Linked DNA regions of Homo sapiens: region 1 is linked to region 2. Evidence: fine-mapped expression QTL. Tissue or cell type: whole blood. Region 2 holds a variant in brackets; the other region holds the start of a gene. All regions are shown on one strand. Distances are between the middles of the regions. Region 1 holds the start of CCDC174 (coiled-coil domain containing 174). Region 2 overlaps C3orf20 (chromosome 3 open reading frame 20).

What was found. PIP is the estimated chance that this variant, and not a neighbour inherited with it, causes the effect.
Region 1: CCDC174 starts here. The variant in region 2 is fine-mapped to the expression of CCDC174 in whole blood (TOPMed, PIP above 0.99). The same link has a PIP of 0.9 or more in testis.

The regions. Positions count from the first base shown.
Region 1 is chr3:14,648,914-14,654,294 of GRCh38, reverse strand. CCDC174 (coiled-coil domain containing 174) reads right to left here and starts at 2,533. Exons shown (of 11, transcript NM_016474.5): 1 at 2,417-2,533. The coding sequence starts at 2,458. It overlaps LOC124909347 (a long non-coding RNA gene), which reads left to right and starts at 2,174. Exons shown (of 2, transcript XR_007095826.1): 1 at 2,174-2,626; 2 at 3,069-5,381. RefSeq lists enhancers at 2,221-2,290, 2,431-2,830, 2,334-2,992.
Region 2 is chr3:14,677,844-14,683,207 of GRCh38, reverse strand. It overlaps C3orf20 (chromosome 3 open reading frame 20), which reads right to left. Exons shown (of 17, transcript NM_032137.5): 2 at 877-1,038; 3 at 11-630. The coding sequence starts at 494. Among named protein-coding and RNA genes, the nearest start is that of C3orf20, 5.4 kb to the right of the region's middle. RefSeq lists a silencer at 2,230-2,430. The variant ATTG/G (reference allele first, on the strand shown) is at 2,558.

The sequences.
Region 1 (5,381 bases), 29 kb after region 2:
TTAAGTAACTAAATGTTTAAATGTAGAATCCAGTACACAAATTAAGCTAAGTCATGTTTCATTCTACCTCTGCTGCAAATGCATTTTTACTCTGACTTTCAACACTCGAGGCTTTCCTTAGGCAAGGAGAAAGTGATAAAGCAAAATAAATTAATAAAGTCTGCATCTTTTAGTTTCAGATTAAACTTGCATTATTAAGCACCTTCTCTCTGACTAGCACTGCACTCATTTCATCATCACAACTTATTTCTACAGTGAAATGCTGTAGAAATAACGCTGAAGAGCAGAACATAAACATGAATTAGACATACTCTCTGCCTCAAAGAGCCTACAATGTAACAAGGAAAGTAATTTATACTACCAACAAAATAAAACAAATGACTCTAGAGTGGAAGAAAGTAGCACATAAGTTCAGATAACAGAGCATTTCCTTCTGAGCAGAGTGATCAGAGAAAGCTTAGAGCAGAGCCTTTAAAGACACATTATTTCAACAGCTAGAAATAAAATAGACTGGGTGAATTATAACAGCTCCACGTTTGACTTAATCCATTTCAAAAACCGTAAGCTTGGCTGAATCACACGGTTCAAGAACAGGAAAGAAGGCCAAGGCATAGGGAGTGGGGCAGTTGGGTGAATATTAGTACCTTTCCCTCAGCTACATTAATTACCCCTGCCTACTCTGCAAAAAAGGATATAACAACAGTTTCCTTTTTAATGGTCCAGGTACAGCTGCTTATATGGATGGGCATTTGTAAATCAGATACTTCATCACTGTCTTAATCATCAGATACTTAAAAAAATCACTTTATTTGTTAAGGAAGATAAAAATGGCTGGGTTCAATTTCCGTTTTGGAAGAAATCGATTTAAAAGGTAACCATTTAATAATGCAAAGGGCAGTTTCACTGCAGACCCTAATACTGGAAATTTTTAAAAACAAATGAAAAACTTCTACTTTTTCTTCTAAGCTTACTTAACCACACCAAATTTTCCAGCCACATATCTTCCTAGTCTACAACTGCCTTTAACTTTAAGAGATGCTCAAAAAAATGTAAATTCTCAAATAGCATTCTTATTACAATTACTGCTAACCTGTCAGTATAGGTTGGCTTTAATATTTATAGCTTTCTGGTTCCTGATCTTCAAACAAAATAATAACTGGTACCAATTTTAACCAATAATAGTTACCAATAATAACTAGTACTCAAATATTGGGACACCTATATGTTTTCCTTCCTACTCACTTTGTGTCCTAATACTCTGAAGTAAATTCAAGATTAAATCAAAGGTTGGGCAATTTGCTCTGATGATGAAAAGGCAGCAGCTTTGGAGTCAAGTAGAGTGAGTGAGAAAGGGTCTATCACTAAGATTTCTTCCCCCCGCCCCCCGCCCCTTAGACGGAGTTTCGCTCTTGTTGCCCAGGTTGGAGTGCAATTGCGCGATCTCGGCTCACCGCAACCTCCGCCTCCCCGGTTCAAGCGATTCTCCTGCCTCAGCTTCCCGAGTAGCTGGGATTACAGGCGTGCACCACCACGCCCGGCTAATTTTTTTATTTTTAGTAGAGACGGGGTTTCTCCATGTTGGTCAGACTGGTCTCAAACTCCCGACCTCAGGTGATCTGCCCGCCTCAGCCTCCCAAAGTGTTGGGATTACAGGCGTGAGTCACCGCGCCCGGCTATCACTAAGATTTCTGTCTGTAAGCTGGGGAAAGCTACTTCATCTTTCCAGGCCTCAATTTCATCATCCATAAAACGGAGATATTAATAGCACCTACCTCCTAAAGCCATTGGGAGGATTCAATGAGATAGTGCATATAAAGTGCTGGCACAAAATGTGTACTTAGAACAAGTTTTCTTTCTAGAGTAGCTGATGTAATAAATCTGCTTACATCCTTTCAGACCTCACAACTCCCTATGCCTGCATTAACAACTGTTTAGTTCCAGGGAGGGCACGCTGGACACTTTCGGGTCCTGCGAAATATGTCACACTCTAAAGTTCTGGGAGGACTTTGTGGGTCCCTGGATGGAGGAGAAACCAGGAAGAGGATATGTCTGCATAGCAAAAAGAAGCTAGGGTTCCTCCTGACTGTAAGGGAGAAGGCTGACGAGGTGCAGGTCCTTGTGGGCAGGGCAGAGGTGAGGCACGGAGTTTCCTAACCCACGGGACACCAGGTTCAGATCCGTGTCCGAGGGTTCTGGCCCGGGCGCATGTCAGAGGAGAGTAGCCCAATTCAGGGTCCTGTAAGAAAACTGAACCGGATCCCCGCCGGAGAAGAAAATCCAGTTCGGGGGTTCCTGTTTGAGGGGAGAGGTCAGGTCTCTGGGTCCCCGAGTGAAGAAACAAGCTAGGTCGACATTCTTGTCTGATGGAGACACGGTGAACCCGGAGCCCGTGGAGTTACCTCATACCCTCACTCACCGAGGAGGCCGTGACGTCCAAAGGCTTTTTCCTACGGTCCATGGTCGTGGCAGAGGGTCCCGGTCCAGGAAGGACCCTTTCTACCCGACACAGGCCTCGTAAGCCTACCTCCGTCGCAACCGGAAGTGTCTTCGACAGCGACACTGAGTTTGCGTGAGTTTGCGACGCGAGTTTGTCAGCTCAGCGCCATCTTGAGAAGGTCAGAGTGTGGTGCGTATTACGTTCACCATCATTTTGGAAAGGTCATAGAGTGCGGAGGTTGACGCTAACTGCTAAGGTCATCTTGAGGGCGGAAGGTAACAAGGATTGGTGTGGGCGCCATCTTGAGAAGGGCGGAATAAAGCTTTTGATTGCGATGGACGCCATATTGGGTGGGGCGGATGTGGGGTTGGCGACAAAGATAACGCCATCTTGGGGAAGGCTGACGCTTAAGTAAGTGAACTCGAGCGTCTCGGGAAAGGTGGATTGGGAGGACCGGAAGAATCTTAACTGCAATTCCAGGACCTGCTGCCTGGCACTTTTCACACGTTAAATAGTTGGTTCTTAAAAGAGCGTACGAGATAAGGATTATTATATTAATCTTAGTAGAAATAACAAGAATAATAGCTAACATTAATGTAGTGCTTATTATGGGCCACTTTACATATTTCAGCTCTTAAGAACGTGAACTCCTGGGCCGGGCGCGGTGGCTCACGCCTGTAATCCCAGCACTTTGGGAGGCTGAGGCGGGTGGATCAGGAGGTCAGGAGTTTGAGACCAGCCTGACCAACATGGTGAAACCCCGTCTCTGCTGAAAATACAAGAAAAAAAAAAAATTAGCCGAGCGTGGTGGTGCGCGCCTGTATTCCCAGCTACTCAGGAGGCTGAGGCAGAAGAATCGCTTGAACCTGGGAGGTGGAGGTTGCAGTGAGTCGAGATCAAAAAAAAAAAAAACAAAGAACACGTGAACTCGAAAGCTGACTTTCTGGGTTGGAATCGCTCTTCACGGCTTACTGCTTGTGTGACCTTGGGCAAGTTACTTAACTTCCGTGTGCCTCAGTTTCCAAAGGGGGATATAATTTTATTTACCTAATGGGTCTTAGTGAGGATTAGATGAGTTAAATGAGCTAGTCTTGATAAAAATGTTAATGATTATGGTAGACAGACCAATCACCCTCACCCCGACTCCCAGATGTCTACCTTCTAATCCCCAGAATCTGGGTATATGGTGACCTTTATATAGCAAAAGAGAATTGGCAGAGATGATGAAATTAAAGCGATTGAGATGGGGAGCTAGCCTGGATTGTGCAGGTGGGTCCCCTATCATCAAAACCATCCTTATAAGGGGTAGACAGGATGGCCAGAGTCAGACAGAGATCAGAGATGCTTTGAAGAGGGAGAGTGGGACCACATGCCTAGGTATGCAGGAGGCCGCTAGAAAAAGCAAAGAAATGAGCCCTCCTCCAGAGTCTCCAGAAGGAATGCAGCATTGCTGACACGGTGATTTTAGTCTTGTAACACTCATCTCAAACTTCTGACTTCCAGAACTCTACCAGAATACGTTTGTGTTGTTTTAAGCCACCAAACTTGTGGCAATTTGTTACAGCAGCAAGACGAAAGTGATCATAATGATTGTAACAGTGGCATTTAGTATATGTGGGGCATGTGTATGACTCTTTGCATAGATTATATTATATAATCCTTGCAAGAATCCTAGAAGCGGACCTATTATCCACCATATTAGAGAGAAGAAAAATGAGACTCATCACATCCTCATCTCATCTGTCTTTATGGAGAAAATGGGAAAAGGGAAAAGGAGAGGGGAATTGAGGCAGTTGACTGTGTTCAGTCTTATTTATTTATTTTCATTTGTTTATTTCTCCAAGTCCGCCAGTCTCTGAAATTAGAACAGTAAGCAATATGAGATAATCGGGCCTAATAATGTTGTGATTCTCTTTTCTTAATGGAGTGGAATGTTCTGTCCCCACAAGAAGGATTATACCTTATAGACTTGTCTTGTTCAGATTCTGTATTTACCCATTTTACTGAAACACATACTAAATTCCATGTGTTTTTGTTACAAATCTTCTGAAAGAAAATGTGAAACATTAAAAGGTATTAATAATAATTTTTTTTAAAAGGAAAAAAAATGAGGCTCAGTTGCTTAAATGGCATGCCAGGGGTCATTTCCCAGCTAGCAAGTGAAGGAGCCTTCAGTTAAAAAATAACTCAAAGACATTGAGTTAATTATTGGCGTGTTATTTACTTGTAACTAGTGGAACCAGTATAGACTGACTTCATCTCAGAAAGCGAGGAAAGGATTTATATAGAAGAAACACAGCTTCTAAACTATGAATGTTGGTTTTTTTGCCTAGCTGGACCCTGGCAATGAAGCCAGTGAGTGTTCTGATCCTGGAAAGCTAGAAAGAAAGTAATTCTAGTTGCACGTGAATGTCCCTGAAGACCATGAGAATTTAGCTTCCTCTGCACGATGCCTGTCAGGGTCCTTGGTTGTCATCTCCATCTTAGCGATGCAGGTTTGCACCCTCACCCTTGTCAGAAATTCTCCCTAGAGTGGCATCCAGCTGATTGTAACCACCTCCCAAGCCACTTAAATGACCAGGAGCAAGCTAGTGAGTCCCCTTTATTCCCAGGCTCACTCATTTTGCAGGCTGCAAAAGCACAAAATAACTTAATCTTGCATTGACCAGAATGCTCCCCTGTCATACAAATGATTTTTCACATATCCCCCCATTTCCTCAAACTCTCTCCTCTTTGTTTATGTGTTCCAAGCATCTGGGTCTATCTGGAATTGCCTTCCTCTACCAAGTACAAAAGTTGAAGCCCAGCCCAGTATGTTCTTTACTCAGTCACCCTCTAAATACATGGACCTGGGTTTGTTCTGGAAGAAAGGGAGGGCAGGGACATCCTAGTCTGGTGAAAAGAGCACAGGATTTCCTCCGAGGCCGCTAGCACTCCGTTCCAG
Region 2 (5,364 bases):
TGGGCCTTACCCGACATAGACTCCACCATGGCCTTCATCTTCAGTCTGAGGAGCTCCGTCAGCAGGTGGATGGACTGCTGCTGAAACCTGTTCAGGGTCTCCTGGTGGGTGCGCACCTGACGGGCCATGGTGGGAGAGAGGGTGGAGCGCTTGGCTGCCCCAGTGGTTGCCAGCAGCACTGGACGTGGTGGTGCTGGTGGTGGTGGAGGTAGTGGCTTCTTCAGTGTGGGGACCTGCACAAAGGTGGGTTCCATGAGCACCACCAGGGGGGCTCCAAAGCTGACCTCCAGGCCCAAGATGTCGGACGGGGTAGGCACTGAAGGGTCACTGATGAGCTCTTCCCAAGTGAACTCAAAGATGTTTCTGATGCCTTTTGGTACAGAAATGCCTGCATTCTGGCAGATCATGAGGAGTTTGGAGATGCGGGCCAGTAGCTTGGGGGCCATGGCTGTGTATTGCTGATATAATTCTAGGTTACTCTTGATGTAACTCATGAGAGGGACCTTCAGCTATAAAGAGAGCTCTCTGAGAGGTGACTGAGAGCAAAAGTTCTTCCCTACGGTGAAGGCTTGGAGATGGACAGAATGGATGTGCTGAAACGGCCCTTACAGGTCATTGAGCCAGTGGTTCCTATCCGGAAAGGACAAGAAAAGAGTTAGTCACTCTCCCCATAGTAGGGCAAGGGGAGGTCCCCCGTCCCTTACCTACCCAGAGACACCATCAGAGAGACCAATGTTAGTGAGTCACTTTGGGAAAGGTCTGATGATAAGTATGGTTCCAGGAAAGCTTCAAGGACAGTCACACAAACTGGGTATAGGACCCTGGGGGGGCTGGAGGAATGGAAGGGCTGGGGAAGAGAGAAAGGTCCCATTGCACCTTTTGTAGCTAGAGATCCGAGGGTGAAAGATCTGCTTGTGGTCAATCATTAAGAACCTGCAAGAATAAAAAGATGTTTCACTGGTTCGCTTTGGAAGCAAGGGATGCAGAAGCTCCTGGTCGCAATGCCAAGATGGGCATGGAATTATCCAACGTGTACATCTGAGGGCAGACAGGAAAGAATGAGGACAATGCATTTACTAAGCTCAATCACTAATATAATTTGCCAAATTTCATCAAATCCAAGACATTAGTGATCAAAAGATGCACCATCTTATAAGAAAAAAATGAATGTAAGCTGCCATTGACTGTAAGACATATTACAATTTCAGAGATGTTAAAGTTGGAAAATGTGCCTGAAAATCAATGGACTATAATAAATATTTTTCCACTTTAATACTACAGTAATGTTTACCCTGACATATTTCTACATTGTGTTTTATTCTTACCTTCTTAACTTATACCAAAAATAGACCACTGGTTGAAGAAAGGAAGCATAAAGAACAATTTAATAAGCAAAAAAATGGCTAGAAAAACCTGTAAATACACTGGCAGAGTTTTGTAACCAGATCCTGAAAGTTTCATTTTTCTGAACAAAATGAACCTGATAGCAGTCTTTAATAATATATCAAATTAAAACTAGTCACATCTTATGCTACACAAAAATGATTTGTTTCTTGTAATTCCCAAGGGACTTTATGAGAGTGTGAGCCTCCGTGAAAGACTCAAGAATCCACAGCACGTAGCAAAGGTCAACCCCAGGGAGACTTAGATGCTGATGGCCATCTCCAGCATCTTGATGCAGAGTCAGCGAGTTGTTCCTGTTGCCCAACTCCAACAACCCTAACCAGCCCACTTACCAGGAAGGGCTGCTGGCCCAAGGCTTCTGACCACACTTGTGAGTGAGTGCAGCTGTCCAACCATCTCTTCGACCACCTTTTATCCTGACAACCACTCCAGCCAACACACCTACGTCTTCTTTTCCACTAGACAATGCTCCCTTTCCCTTTTCAAACCCTCTGGAGCCACCCCAAGTTCGCCATTCCAGGATGGCCTGCCTGGTGCCCACCTTCCATGTTTACAGGGCAGGCTCACAGCCACGAGCTCGTGTGCCCACCCAGTGGTGAGAAGGCTATCATCTTTCTTGTTTTGCTGGGAATCAGAGCTCTTGGTCAGGAGTCACCCATCTGCAGACTCCTGGCACAGAGGCCTTTCCAAACACCACACTAATTTTTCATGGCCTCTGACCTGCCTCTGTCCATCTATCAATAACAAAATCTCCAAGGAACATGAGCCCCAAAGAGCAAACCCTTCCAGCATCCTGCTGGTTTGCAGATAGTGGCTTCCTACGCCTATTTGTTGACCTCCTGGCATCTCCATTCCTCAGCTTTGCAGATTGGGAAAAAGAGCTTTGTTTTTGAAATGATAAGTCCACAGGACAAAGAAACCACTCAGAATCCCGGTCATCTGGGCAACCAGCCAGAGGGATCTGATCCTGACTGTGCAGGGCAGATTTTTTTTTAAGTCAGGACTTAAATGAGAAGAAGGAGATAACTAATATAAGTCTTGAAATATTAACTGGTTTGGGAAACTTATCCCCCCTGCCACCAGTTCCTTTGTTTTTTGAGGTTAATTTTGAAGATATATCTTACAGATAAAAACTGAATTTTTGAACAGCTTT[ATTG/G]AGATAGAATTCACATACAATCCACCCTTTTTAACGTGTGTACAATGGCTTTTAGTATATTCAGAGTTGTATAACCATTACTATCAAATTTTAGAACATTCTATTGCCCCCACACAAAACCCATCATCAGTCACTCCCTGTTTCCCCTCACCCTCAGGCAACCATTCGTCTAGTTTCTGTCTCTGTGGATTTGCCTGTTCTGGACATTTCATAAAAATAGGATCATCAACTATGTGGGTTTTTTTGTGACTGTCTTCTTTCACTTGCTGTAATGTTTTTTAAATTCATCCATGTTATATAGCATGTATCAGTACTTCACTCCTTTTAATGACAGAGTAATATTCCACTGTATGGATATACCACAATTTGTTGATCCACTCATTTGTTAATGGGCATTTTGGTTATTTTTATTTTTTGGCTATTATGAATAGTGCTATGAATATGCATACATAAGCTTTTGTGTGGATGTATGTTTTCATTCTCTCACATATGTATACCTAGAAGTGGGATTGCTGGGTCATGGGGTAACTCAAGTGTTTAACTTTGTGAGGGCTTGCCAGACTGCTGTAACATTTCACAGTCCCACCAGTGGCGTTTTGAGAATTCTAATTTCTCTCTTTGCCAGCACTTGTTATTATGCCTTTTTGACTCTAGTGCTATCCTGGTAGATGTGAAATTATGTCTCATTGTGGTTCTGATTTGTATTTCCCTAATGACTAATTCCCTAAGCATCTTTTCATATGCTTATTGGCCATTTTATATCTTTTTTTGAGAAATGTGTATTCAGACCTAAAAACTGTTTTAAAAAGCAATGTCATTTTAAATTAAATGTGGAGATAACCTATGTTTATTGCTGTATATTTACATCTCTTCCAAACTCAGAGGTGAACATGTGACTACATCCTGGCCTGAGATGCAGATGAAGCTCCTGGGTAAAGGACCCTGAGAAATCTGTTTGAAGGAGACTGCCTTCAGGGAATGAACATAATTTTTTTTTTTTGTACCAGCTGACCTCTCTAGTCCTTCTTGCCTGAAATGGATAAGATGGCTGCAGCTCCAGCAACCATTTTGAGCCACGAGGTTACCCTGAAGAGGGAAACTTCGCATTAAAGGTGGCCAAGCTGCGCAGCAGAGCCCGGGCTCCTGATGACATTGTGGCACCCACACCAGCACTCAACCATCCACCTCCAGGCTTTTTCCACATGCAAATGAACCTCTAATGCCTTTAAGCCACTTTATTTAGCTCTCTATTCTGGCCAATGAAAGTGATTCCCCACTGACCCCCAGCCATGTTAGATCATCACTCCTTCCTTCCCATTTATCCAATTTCTATTTTGTCATTCATTTTTCCATCACTGAGACATGGATCTTGACCTAAAGTAACTCAACAATGAACAGGCAGAGCAGACTTACAAAACTGACTTATGTGATAAGGGTCACACTACAGAAAAACATACAAAGGCCATGAAAACAAAAACAAAAACAAAAAGGAAAGAACTGGCACTAGACAGTGTTCTAAAAGATGAGTAAGAAGTTGCCAGGCAGATAGGAACAAGACAGGCATTCTAGGAAGAAGAAACAGCACCTACAAAGAGATGGTGACATTGGAAGCATGGTGGGCTCAGAGGACTGCACACACCTCAGTATGTCTGGGATGTGGGGGGATCCGTGGGAGAGCAGCAGATGAAACTGGGAAAGTGGCCTAGAATCAGATCTTGCAGGGCCTTGTATGTCATTCCAAAGAATTTGCATGTGCTATATAATCAAATACTCCATGCAAATACTGAAATGTATTGTCTTTAATGGCTAATTGTGTTCCATATGGTCTCATCTCTGCAATTGGAGGGCAGGGGCCATGTCTTCTCTTTTATAATCTCTACAATGCTAAGCCCAGCACTGCTACATGCCAGAAACGGAAAAATATCTGTAGCATTAAAGTCAGCCACATAGCCTAAGGGACCCACGCAGATGGCTATAAACAAAGCTTCAAGATGCAATTCCCACAAAGGAATGAAATGTATAAGAAATTTATAAAGGATATGAGGGATGACCATGGACGCAGCACCTTCTTCAGTCAACAATCTGCTGCATGTCTCCACTGTTTCCAGTTAGCTTCTGGGACAGGGATGGGGAAGGCATGGGCCCTGCTCTCGAGGGGCTCACAGTAGAGAGGGGAGACACACACACAGAAGGCTACAGTAAGTCAGAGTGCTCTCTGCAAGGCGGAATGGAAACCCAGAGAAGGAAGTGTCACTGGGAGGGCAAGAGTTAAGGTTCTCACGTCACATGAATGTGTGTTTAGGCAATGTGACCTTGAGCCCAGCCTTTGATCTGTGTGATGTTCCCAATGGCCACGTGTGACACTAGTCCCCACCTTCAAGGACTGTGAGGATTAGTGAGGTGGTGTGTGTGAAGGGTCAGCACACACGCAGCACAGAGTTGAATGCTCAGTAATTGTTAGGTAGAAAAAAGGTCATTATTTGAAGTGGTCAAAGGTTGTATTACAGGCGATGGGCACAGCTCTTGTACAGGCTGAAGGCTCCAAACAGCCCTGACAAGTTTGTGGAACAGCAAGGAACTGGATGCCGCTACAGGGTAGTGTAGAGGTGGGGAGGGTAGGACCAGGTGAGAGGAGCCTGAGCTTGATCTTGTAGCTGATGGGAAACTACTGAAGTTGGCAAACAAAGGAGGCATCTGCATTGTAGGGTGCTCCTTCTGCTGCTGGCAGCGTGGAGGGAAGTGTGGTGGGGTGAGTGGATATGGATAGCTGCTGCTAGGGGTTAGCCAAGGATGTGAGCTGCACC